Regions from separate parts of the Homo sapiens genome. Here region 2 is linked to region 1. The links come from fine-mapping of genetic effects on gene expression. A gene starts in region 1. The other region holds a variant in brackets. All regions are shown on one strand. Distances are between the middles of the regions. Region 1 holds the start of NRG2 (neuregulin 2). Region 2 overlaps NRG2 (neuregulin 2).

Region 1 (5,367 bases):
GTAAAATGAAAGAGTGGATGTCGCTATCTTCCTTATGGTGATGTTTTGTGATTTATGAGGTCTGTGATCTATGAAAATGAAATGGGGGACACTGAAGGAGCCAAGAAGATTGGCTTGATGCCTTTAAGCGTGCCGATTTTCAGTTATTTTCTTCCTTCTCTCCTTCTTTCACTGGAGATTTGCTAATCCTTATTTTATGCCAGGCATTGTGTTGGAGGTAATAGGAATCCAAAGATGAATAGGATATATATAGTCCCTGACATTAACGTGCCTGGCCTGATGGGAGATGCAGACCCATTAAATGGCTGCTTGAAATACGGTATGGGCCAGTATCCCAACAGTAATACTATGTGTGAAGCTCATGGCAATACAGAGGAGGAAGGGATTAATTCCATCATGTATGTGTTGGTGGGAGTAGAGGTGGATATGTAGGAAGGGGGATGCGGTATAATGCTGAGCTGGGCCTTGGGAAAATAAGTTTTCCATGTGGTCAAGGTGGAGGTGAGGCTTTCTGGACACAAGAGACATCATGTGCAGAAGCACACCAAGAAAGAGCATGAAGTGCTGAGGATTGCTAGAGTGGGGGGTTGGCTCTCAGGATATGAAGCTGGCTAGGCAAAGGGAGCCCATGAAGAGCCTTGCTGAGGAGTTTGAACTTAACTTCTGAGAGCAGTAGCATGGCCAAATTGTACTTACATTTTATTTTTAGAAGGATCACTCTGGCATTGGTAGGACTGGAGATAGGTGATGAGGTGAAAGGAGTGGAGACCAGTTAGAAGGCTTAGAAGTTGTCCAGGTGAGAGATGATGAGGGCTTGGACTTAAGGTATTTGCAGCAGAGTTGGAGTGGAAGTAGATAAATTGGAGATTATTTTAAAAGAGAGACCCAAAGGCCTTGGTGATTAATTGGATGAGGAAGAATAAAAGATGAGATGAAGGGACTTATTGTAATGGATTGATGTAGTCTAAAAGAATAAAACAGTGGCATTAATAATTATAGGGGATTTGGAGTGAAGTGGAAGAAATAATGATGTTGGCTTTGGATGTATTGAGTTTAAGATGTCTCTTAGCTAGGAGGAAAGGTGTAGCTCTCTCTACTTCCTTTCCAGAATAGCAGTCCTAGCCTAAGTCACTCATCCTTGGACCAGTTTCCTGTGGAGCCCAGTGCGGTATAAAATTCCCCAAGAGCTCACTGGCATTCCTGAGCTCCACATCCTTCAAGGTTAAAAGCTGGGTGTTGAAAACTCCCTGGACCCTCATTGATAGGCTAATGGATTATGGACCTGTGTGTGTGTGTGTGTGTGTGTGTGTGTGTTTTAAATCAGATGCTGGCTCCAGTGCAGCAAACTCTTCTGCCTCTTGCAAGCATCAGCCTTGGAAACAAAACAAAACAAAACAAAAAAAACCTTTTTTATGGAGCAGCCTCTGGCCCTGACAGGCTCTGGCTCTCTGTTGGCTCCCAAGAAGCCCCCCACCTTTCTTAGAGATCAGATTTTTAAAAGATGAGGTTGTACAGTGCTCAGCCAGATCCCCACGTGGCCGCTGAAGAAAGCCCAGAGTGTTGGGGACTGGGCCCTTTCTCAGCTACCACCTCTGCTTGGGTGTCCTCAATGCTAAGACAAGACACCTTGTGGCCCAACTCTTTCCAAAATGACGGGGCTGGGATTCTCCCCCACCTCAAGTCGAATATCCAGCGTTCACCAGGCGGTGGCAGGACCGAGCACGTGGTATCATTTAGGGGCTGGGCTCCAGGGTCCTCCTAGGAAAGAGGACAGCCCAAGAGGCGAGAGGCTGGCCGGCCACCCTGGCCATGGCAACCTCTCTGGCTCCTACAGCTGCTGGCCAAAGGCAGGGGGCACGCCCTGCGTCCCATTACCACGTTCATAGGATGGTGCCAGGAGCCCGTTATCTCTTCTTCGCCTTCTCCTCACGCACCACCCCCACTGTCATGCCGATAAATCCCGGGAGCAAAGGGTGGCACGATTCCTCCCGCGCCCCTGCGGGCTGAAGGCGGGCACTAAAGCAGTGCAGTCCCAAGCTTCCCCTGCAGAAGCCGCGCTCCCTACTCGGTCCGGGGGCAGAGGGGGCGCGAGAGAGCAAGTGGGCGGGCGTCCCATCCTCCGCATCCTCCTCCAGGTCCTGGCGCACAGGGTGGGAGCGCTGCGCTGCGCCGCGCTGCGCATCGCGGCCCGCTTGCCGCCTGCCCCCTGCCCTAGCTGGGCCACCTCCCCGGGCTGCCGGTGGAGGGCTAAGAGGCGCTAACGTTACGCTGTTTCCGGTTTTCCAGCGGGCTCTGTTTCCCCTCCCAAGGCGGCGGCGGCTGAGCGGCGGAGCCCCCCAAATGGCCTGGCCAGATGCGGCAGGTTTGCTGCTCAGCGCTGCCGCCGCCGCCACTGGAGAAGGGTCGGTGCAGCAGCTACAGCGACAGCAGCAGCAGCAGCAGCGAGAGGAGCAGCAGCAGCAGCAGCAGCAGCAGCGAGAGCGGCAGCAGCAGCAGGAGCAGCAGCAACAACAGCAGCATCTCTCGTCCCGCTGCGCCCCCAGAGCCGCGGCCGCAGCAACAGCCGCAGCCCCGCAGCCCCGCAGCCCGGAGAGCCGCCGCCCGTTCGCGAGCCGCAGCCGCCGGCGGCATGAGGCGCGACCCGGCCCCCGGCTTCTCCATGCTGCTCTTCGGTGTGTCGCTCGCCTGCTACTCGCCCAGCCTCAAGTCAGTGCAGGACCAGGCGTACAAGGCACCCGTGGTGGTGGAGGGCAAGGTACAGGGGCTGGTCCCAGCCGGCGGCTCCAGCTCCAACAGCACCCGAGAGCCGCCCGCCTCGGGTCGGGTGGCGTTGGTAAAGGTGCTGGACAAGTGGCCGCTCCGGAGCGGGGGGCTGCAGCGCGAGCAGGTGATCAGCGTGGGCTCCTGTGTGCCGCTCGAAAGGAACCAGCGCTACATCTTTTTCCTGGAGCCCACGGAACAGCCCTTAGTCTTTAAGACGGCCTTTGCCCCCCTCGATACCAACGGCAAAAATCTCAAGAAAGAGGTGGGCAAGATCCTGTGCACTGACTGCGGTGAGTCGCCCCCTCCCTTTGCTGGAGAAAGGGGGGAGGGGCGAGGTGGTGGAGAATGGGGGTGGGGCGGGGAGGTGCTGCAGGTGCCCGGGCCTGGCAGCGTCCGGGCGCTGGGGGGGTGGGGCCGCCCCTGGGCAGGGCGCCTGGCACGGGTGGGTGAGGGGGTTGGGGTTGGAGAGAAGAAGGATCAGGCTCAAAGTGTGCCAGGGGTGGGGGGCGGAGGGAGGCGCTGGCCTGTGCCAGCGGGGATCTGCGGCTGATGTATGGCATGTGGGGCTGGAAAGCTGCCATCATAGCCCAGTAGCGGAAGGAAAAACGGAGAGGTCCTGGCGGTGCTGGCCTGAGGCTCAGTGAGTCAGGAGTGACCCTCGGAGGCCTTGCCTGCCCTGCTGCCGCGGGCCTGCCGTGCCCAGGCTGGCAGGGTCTGCGGGAGCAGCTGGGCAGACTCCCAGGCTGTGAAGGCCTCCGCTTACAAGTTCTCCTAGGGAATGGTCGCCCCCGCCCCCTCCTTCCTCTCCTGGGCTCGTTGCTCTGCTCATCCACACCGCTGGCGCAGGCAGAGTTGGACTTTTTCTGCTACTGTTTTCCGTCCTCCATGTGGCTCCAGTTTTTTTCTTCATCGTGATTGCCTGTCTTTGCTAAGCAGGTAGCACATCCTTCTCTTAAGACTAGCAAGCAGACACCTTTTTTTTTTTTTTTTTTTAGCTGTTTCTGGGGGAATTACAAGGTCTGTTGATTGTGATGATGATGAAAGAGAGTAACTTCTGCTGAATGCTTTAAGTTCAGCTCTAACGTCTTACTCGCCGGATGTATTTGACTGCATCTCTCATCTTCATGATGTTGGATGCTGCACAGGAATGCAGGTGATTAGAAACAAAACACTGAAATCTGTAGATCTCTGCAGCTGGGAATGGAAGTCTCCCATGTCAAAAGTCAAAGAAATGTCAGTCTAAGAGCTTTTTCTTCTTGTCCCTGAATCCAGTACTTACTTCTTAGTAAGATATTTCAAATCAAATTGTCCCACACTGGAGTATTTGGTGTAAGCCTGTCTCGTGCTTATTCAAATTGAGGTTTCGTTTTGTCCCAACTAAAGCTGAATTTGTTGGCATGCGGTATGACTTGCTGGACTGTGTAATCGCTGAATTATGATAGATGTCCTGTACTCTCATAGAAGTTGGTATGTTTACCAGTTTTACCAACTGATTCTGGGTAGTGTAGACAGGCTTTGTTTGAGTAGCAAAATATGTGTAACAGCTTATAGTAAGTTTTGCTGCCTTCATCTTTCTAGATCGATACCTATGATTTTTGGAAGCTTTCCTCCCCCACCCCCTTCAGGAGGCAAATTTTAGGAGTTTAGTGATGGGAGTATATCTAGACACTAACTATGTTAAACTGTGATCACTTTAATGAGAAGAATCTTGGCAATGTCTTAATAAGGAGGGGAAAACTTTGGGGGATAACAGCAGTTTATCGCTCTGACATTATCCTTAGGAATATTGTTGACTGCTTTTTATTATTGGTTTTATGTTCTGAAATGTTTTATAAAGACAAGTAGAGACCAGCTAAGAATTTCTAATTTTTTATTCTATTAAGTATTTTGATACTTGGGGAGTATTAAAATACTCTGAGATGCCTTGGGGAGCTGTGAAACAGTATTGTACAGTGGAAAATAGATAGTAAAAATATTTATTGAATCTTGTCCAAGGACAGCTTCTGTTTGGTTGTTGGTGAGTTGCTCCTGCATTTGCACAGTGTACATCTCCACATAATCCCTAGTCTGGGCCGCTGAGGACTTGATGGTCTTTGTCAGATAACCCCATAGAGTAACTGGCTTCTCTGCTCCCTTGTCTCCCTCCTCCTACTTTCTCCTTCCCCCAACACAATACACCTTATCAATTACACATTGTTTGTTCTAGTGGGTATTCAGTAGCTTAACAGTTGAATGCAGAAATCATGAAAGATTTGAGGGGCAGAAATATGGTCTGTTTCTAGGTTATGATCATCTCATATTATCAAAATAGCATGTGTAGTATAGTTCTTAAAAAGATACATTTAGAACTGCAATCACTGGTAAAGGAAGGGCCCTCACATATCACAAATTATCAAGGATCAGGAATGTGTATGGCAGTAAACATTTTAGAATGCAAAAAAAAATTGCTTTGAATTGATATTCAAAGGGAAGTATATAAATAGGTACCATTTTGGGGAGCCTTATATAAGGGGATTAGAAATTAAAGGACATATTTGTGAGACTTGTGGAATTGGTGATAATATAACAGAAGAGCATAAACTGCATTTTCTTGTTTTCTACTAT
Region 2 (5,367 bases), 160 kb after region 1:
CTTCCCTGCAGAATCGCATGTTCCCTTGTTTATGAGGGGCAGGCTGGAACAGGCCCCTTGAGCAGGCAGGGGGCGGGGGGCGGGGGTAGGCGCTGAGGAAAATGTGGAGGACACAGCTGCCCAGATCCTGTCCCTGCCAGCAGAGAACCAGCTGGGGAGGTAGGGGGGAGGGGGGAGGGCGTGGTCACCATCTCAGGGCAAACTTGGGTCAGCATGTGATGGGACACCAGGAGCAGAGCACAGCACGCGGCCTGCCAGGGAGACAGGAGAGTCCTGGATCCTCAGGCTTCCACCTGGAGCTGGGAGTGAGGAGGGAGAAGGTGGTGACTCCAGTTCCTGCAGGGGCTGAGAAACCCTCAGAGCCCTGCCCCTTAGCCAGGACCCAGAGCCCCGTGTGCATCTCTGGGGCCGGCTTCTATGAAATCATCAGACAGCTGCTAACCTAGGACATCTGCAGCAAGCCTCAGGGTCATTATCTCTGTCCCCTGCCTCTTTCTTGTTCCTCAGAAGGAAGGGGCACTCCTAGAGACCTGTGCCTGCCTTCTCCAGGTCTCACATGCCTGCATGTGGGGAATCCTTCCTTAACATTCTGCCACGTCCTGCTACATATGATGCTGTATAAGGGAAGCGCCTCTGAATTCCAGGGGGGTGACAAGGAGAATCTGGCTCTGAGTCCCCTGTGCATCAACACCCCCACCCCCGGACCCTCAGGCGATCCCCCTTCCCTGCTAATCTGGTGTGTGCACAGGGAAGTGAGAGAAGCCATACCCTGGGCAAGCTGGAGTTTGTGGCATCTAATTTGGCTGGAGCAGGGAAAGAGATGCTGTCTTAGTCAGAGGGGCCTCCAGGGCTCTCTTTAATGAAGGGAACAAATTATAATTGACAGAAGAGGGTTGTGGGCCGGCACCAGGCCAAGGAGACAGAGACCAGCTTGAGCCAGGAAGAATATGGTATAGTTAAGCAGCTGTCACCACAGCATCAGCAAGGACATTACCATAGCAATAGGGTCTATAGACAAGACCATCTTGTAGCACCCTTGTTGGGAGGACCTTGGGGTAAGGATGCCAGGATGCCTGGGAAGAGGCTCCCCATCAGAGGTGGAGACAGCCCAGGTAGGGATTGTGGGCCAGTTTGCGTCTCCTTGACCCTGGCCCAGCCTATCTGCTTGCCTCTCCTCAGCCTCCTTACCCCATCAGCTCCATAGCTCAGTTTTACATCCCCTAGGCTCAGGGCAATGATGGCTCTACTGCCCTCCCTCGTATTCCCCCATCTCTCCAGCCCACTACACATAGGCTGGAAATCTGGCTTTTTAATTCAGCACTAAAAAGAGGAGGTGATCATACCATGTGCAGAAATTACCGTGTTACTTCTTGCTTCCTCCTGGGGGCCAGCCTGGGATCCCAGGCTTTATCCAGAGCTCATGCTGGCCCTTGGAGGCAGAGGAAGGGGTGAGGGCTGTGAACAGGCCCTTGCAGAGCCTAAGCACCCTGGGGTAGGTGCAGGGAAACTCTGAGAAGGAAGGAGAGGTTTGGCTGGGGCTTCAGAAAGAAGAGGGGGACCAAGGCCAGGTGCCCTACACAGTTCTCAGCATGCAGGGACTAGGTGCAAAGCTTCAGGGCTAGCCCCAGCTTTTCTCAGAGATAGCCCACGTCCTCATGAACTGCAGCTCCTGGCATACCTCTGCCTTTGCCTTGCCGAGTGCCCTTGGGCAAGTCAGGAAGTCCCTCTAGGACTCAGTTTTCCCTTCTGTAAGCAGAGAACACCCAGTTTGGCCCTGAGGATCAAGTCCAGGATCTTTTTGTTCCCCAAGGTGTACAAGCTCCTGGCACACAGGAAGTGCTCAGTAAACATTTGTTGAATGAATGAATGAAACAAAAACCCCTTGGAGAAGCCACAGAGTGCCCCTTAGTGGCAGCGCTGATTTTGAGAACAAGGGAGAGCCCCAGGTTTGGACTAGGAGTCTGGGCACCATCACCATGGGAATCCGTCAGGACAGCTGCCCTCCCGGGTATCTGGGAACAGGTCTTGCATACCCAGAATGACAGGTTGCCACTTCCCAGGAGAGGCAGAGGCAGCTGGGAATGAGGGAGGTGGCCATGTGACTTCCTACAGGGCCTGGCTTTACTCCCCCAGAAGAATGTTACAATGGTCCAG[C/G]CCTAGAAGAGCGGATGTGAGGGATCATAGATTTAGGACATGTGAGCAGCCACTAGTCCTGCCCTGTGTTGTCCTAAGGGCCCAAGGCTCCCTGCAGCTGCAGGGACTCCGTGCCCCACCTGGACTCCAGAAATTGCTGGGGGGAGGGAATCTCCTTCCCATCTAAGCTGCAGGGCCACTGTGGCTCTGTGGAGAGAGGCAACCGCTGGGTGACTGCTGGGGAGCCACAGCCGGCCCTGGCTCACGCCTCTCCCCCTTTTATCCCCTCCCTAACCAGAAAGAACTCACGACTACAGTTCAACAAGGTGAAGGTGGAGGACGCTGGGGAGTATGTCTGCGAGGCCGAGAACATCCTGGGGAAGGACACCGTCCGGGGCCGGCTTTACGTCAACAGCGGTAGGTGGGCCCAGACAGAGGGAAGGGTCCTAGAGGGGTTTGGCAGGGCGGGCCAGTGGCCCCCCAGCCCTTGGGGCCTGCATGTGATCCATCTCGCACTCAACTCCCCTCCCTCCTGCTGCTGCCATATCAAGCCCTAGATCTCAGCCGATTCAGAGAAATGCAGTCGAAGCATAAATGTTTAGCTTTGTTATCTGGGCCTGGAAGAGCCGCCAGCTCTCATTTTAAATACCCTGAAAACTAAATATTTTGAAATCAAGAGGTGGGGGTGGGGAAAGGATATTTTTAGAAGGCAATTATAGGAGGCTGGGCTGCCAGGAGTGGGGCTGCAGGGAGAGGCAGGCCTGGGGCATGTACAAGCTGACTGCCTATTGCCTGTTGCTTTGCTGGGCACCTGAGCACAGGCAGCCATCTCCACTGGGCCATGGGTGGGCAGCTTGGATGCCTGGGGCCCCTGGTGGCAGCCTCTGTTCAGGGAGGGCAAACTCCTCCCCGACAGGCCATCCTCACTCCTTGAAGTCTTGCAAGGTCAGGACCTCACGGCACCTCTTACCTTCTCGTCTCTACAGTGGCAGACCCAGCCTCAGGGTAGAGGCTGCCTTCCTGCTGCACTGCCCTCTCAGGCCCTGGTTCTTTCCCTTGACTGGGAGATTGCCTCTCCGCCAAAACTACCTGTCCTCAGGCAGTGCCCTCTCCACTCTAGCTTGAGTACCTTAAATCCCACAGATCACTCTCCTCCCCCCAACACACACAGACTGAGTGTGCATGTGGCTACCTATTTATTGGGGTTCACTTCCAGTCCTGCTCATCACAGAATATAATCCTGTATCTGTCATTACCTGCCTCTATTTCCACCAGACAGCCTCCCAATATGCCCTAAACCTAGCATGGTCTAAAAGACTACTTGGAACACTCTCTGCCCTATGACCCTCAGACAAAAACCTAGTTCAGACCCTGTCTTCCTGTCCTGGTGAGGGACACCCCGTCCTCCCAGCCCCTTGTGCTCCTTGGTCTCCCTTGCCACTGTGTCTAATAAGTCTGAGTCTCCATGTCCTTGCCAGTCTTCTTTCTGGATCTTTCTCACACCTGCCTCTTCTGCTCTAACTATACCTCAAGGGTAACCCTGGCTTGGGTTTCATCCCTAGTCACCTGAACCAGAGCAGCAGCCTCCTAAGGTGCTTTTATCCTGTCATGTTCCCCACCCCATAGAACTACAGAACAGGGACTTTGTTCTCAACACCCTGGCCTAAATGATCTTTCCAGCCTAACTTCCATCAGTCCCTTGTCCATTCCATTCTTACTCTTGCTCCTGTGCCATCCTGACTCATAGGATGGGTCAAGACAGTTTCTCTCACTATGTGTTGGCCTCATTCTTTCCTACTGTAAAATGGGCCTCTCCCATGTTCGGAGAGTGGGGTGGGAAGAGGAGGCCATGGCTTCATCTCTTCCTCCTTGACCATCCCAACCCACTGCAGCGTCTCTCCCAGCTAGGGCTCCACTCCTGGGCCACTCCTTGGCCAACCATGCTCTGATGGCATCTCTTGAATTCTAGCCTTTGATTAGCCTTCAACTCTCATGCTATTGCTGAACTTTCTCTGTGGGCGTGGCCATCCCAGTGAATCTGTGAGCCTCAGGAGAGGGGAGAACAGGGAGGATGCTTTCTCCTGGAAGTTACAATCATAGCCAGTATTTATTGAGCCAAGCTCCACATTATCCCATGAACCCATACTCAAAGCCAGGATATATTTTATAAACAATAAGAAGCTCAGGGAGATTAAATATTTCACCTGAAGTCAAACACCTAGTTAATGATAGAGCTGTACGATGTAAAAGTAGTTGGCAAACACTTAGTCTTTGAGCTCTGTGGGGCTATGTCTAGTCTGTCTACCACCCTAGCCTCAGGGTCTAGCACAGCACCTGGCTCACAGTGGGTGCCTGGTAAATATTATATAAGAGAACTTATAACCTGCTCCAAGGTCTTTACTGCCTCCTCTATGGCCCAGCCTGGGCATGACAGCAGGGAGGGTGTCTGAGCTCCTACTTCTCTCATCCTATCCCAAGTTTGGGAAGGTGGGCTGTGTCTGGGGTCTAGCACCTGCCACCTCTGCTGTAGTGGTCAGACATTCTCAGATCCACTTTGGATTTGGGGCCTTCCTATTTTATTAGTCAAGACTTTCTTGACTAGAATTAACTTAAGCCTATCTTAAGGGATTTATTTATTGGCTTATAAAACTGGTAAGTTCAGAGGTGGAACTGGCCCCAGGCATGACAGAATCTAAGAACTCAGAGGAAGAGTCCAAGAACTCATAGGATGGCTCAAGACAGTTTCTCTCACTATGTGTTGGCCTCATTCTTTCCTACTGTAAAATGGGCCTCTCTCATGTTTGGGGAGTGGGGTGGGAAGAGGAGGCCATGGTCTCAGACAGGTCCAGATCTACCCCATCCCAGCCCACCACCCGGAGAAAAGAGATGGCTTTGTCTCTGTGTCCATAAGTACAGTCACAAGGATGGATTCTGAATGACCCTGCCAGGTCATGTGACCCACTTGACCAGTCACTGTGCTTGGAGGGTGGGGCCATCTTTGCCTGGCCTGTCTGTGTGTGCACAGGGGCTACTGAGAGGCAGGGCACTGTGAGTGAAGGCCTGGTCAGAACTCCATGGAAAAGCACTTCCCCGAAGGGGTGCTGTTAGCAGAGAAAGTGGGAGCGGCTGCTGTGCAGAAAACCACAGGAGTGCCCTCTCTCTTGCACAGGGCTTGGGGCCTGTGGCCAGAGGTGGTGAGACCCCTCAGATAAGCTGCAGTCCCCTCCCACACAC

Evidence for each region.
Region 2: its variant is fine-mapped to the expression of NRG2 in lung (TOPMed, PIP above 0.99).

What each region holds. Positions count from the first base shown.
Region 1 is chr5:140,040,056-140,045,422 of GRCh38, reverse strand. It overlaps NRG2 (neuregulin 2), which reads left to right and starts at 2,124. Exons shown (of 10, transcript NM_004883.3): 1 at 2,124-3,053. The coding sequence starts at 2,354. RefSeq lists silencers at 1,982-2,321, 2,482-2,691 and enhancers at 1,990-2,659, 4,032-4,221.
Region 2 is chr5:139,878,039-139,883,405 of GRCh38, reverse strand. NRG2 (neuregulin 2) reads left to right here. Exons shown (of 10, transcript NM_004883.3): 3 at 2,432-2,550. Among named protein-coding and RNA genes, the nearest start is that of PSD2, 85 kb to the right of the region's middle. RefSeq lists an enhancer at 2,727-3,490. The variant C/G (reference allele first, on the strand shown) is at 2,155.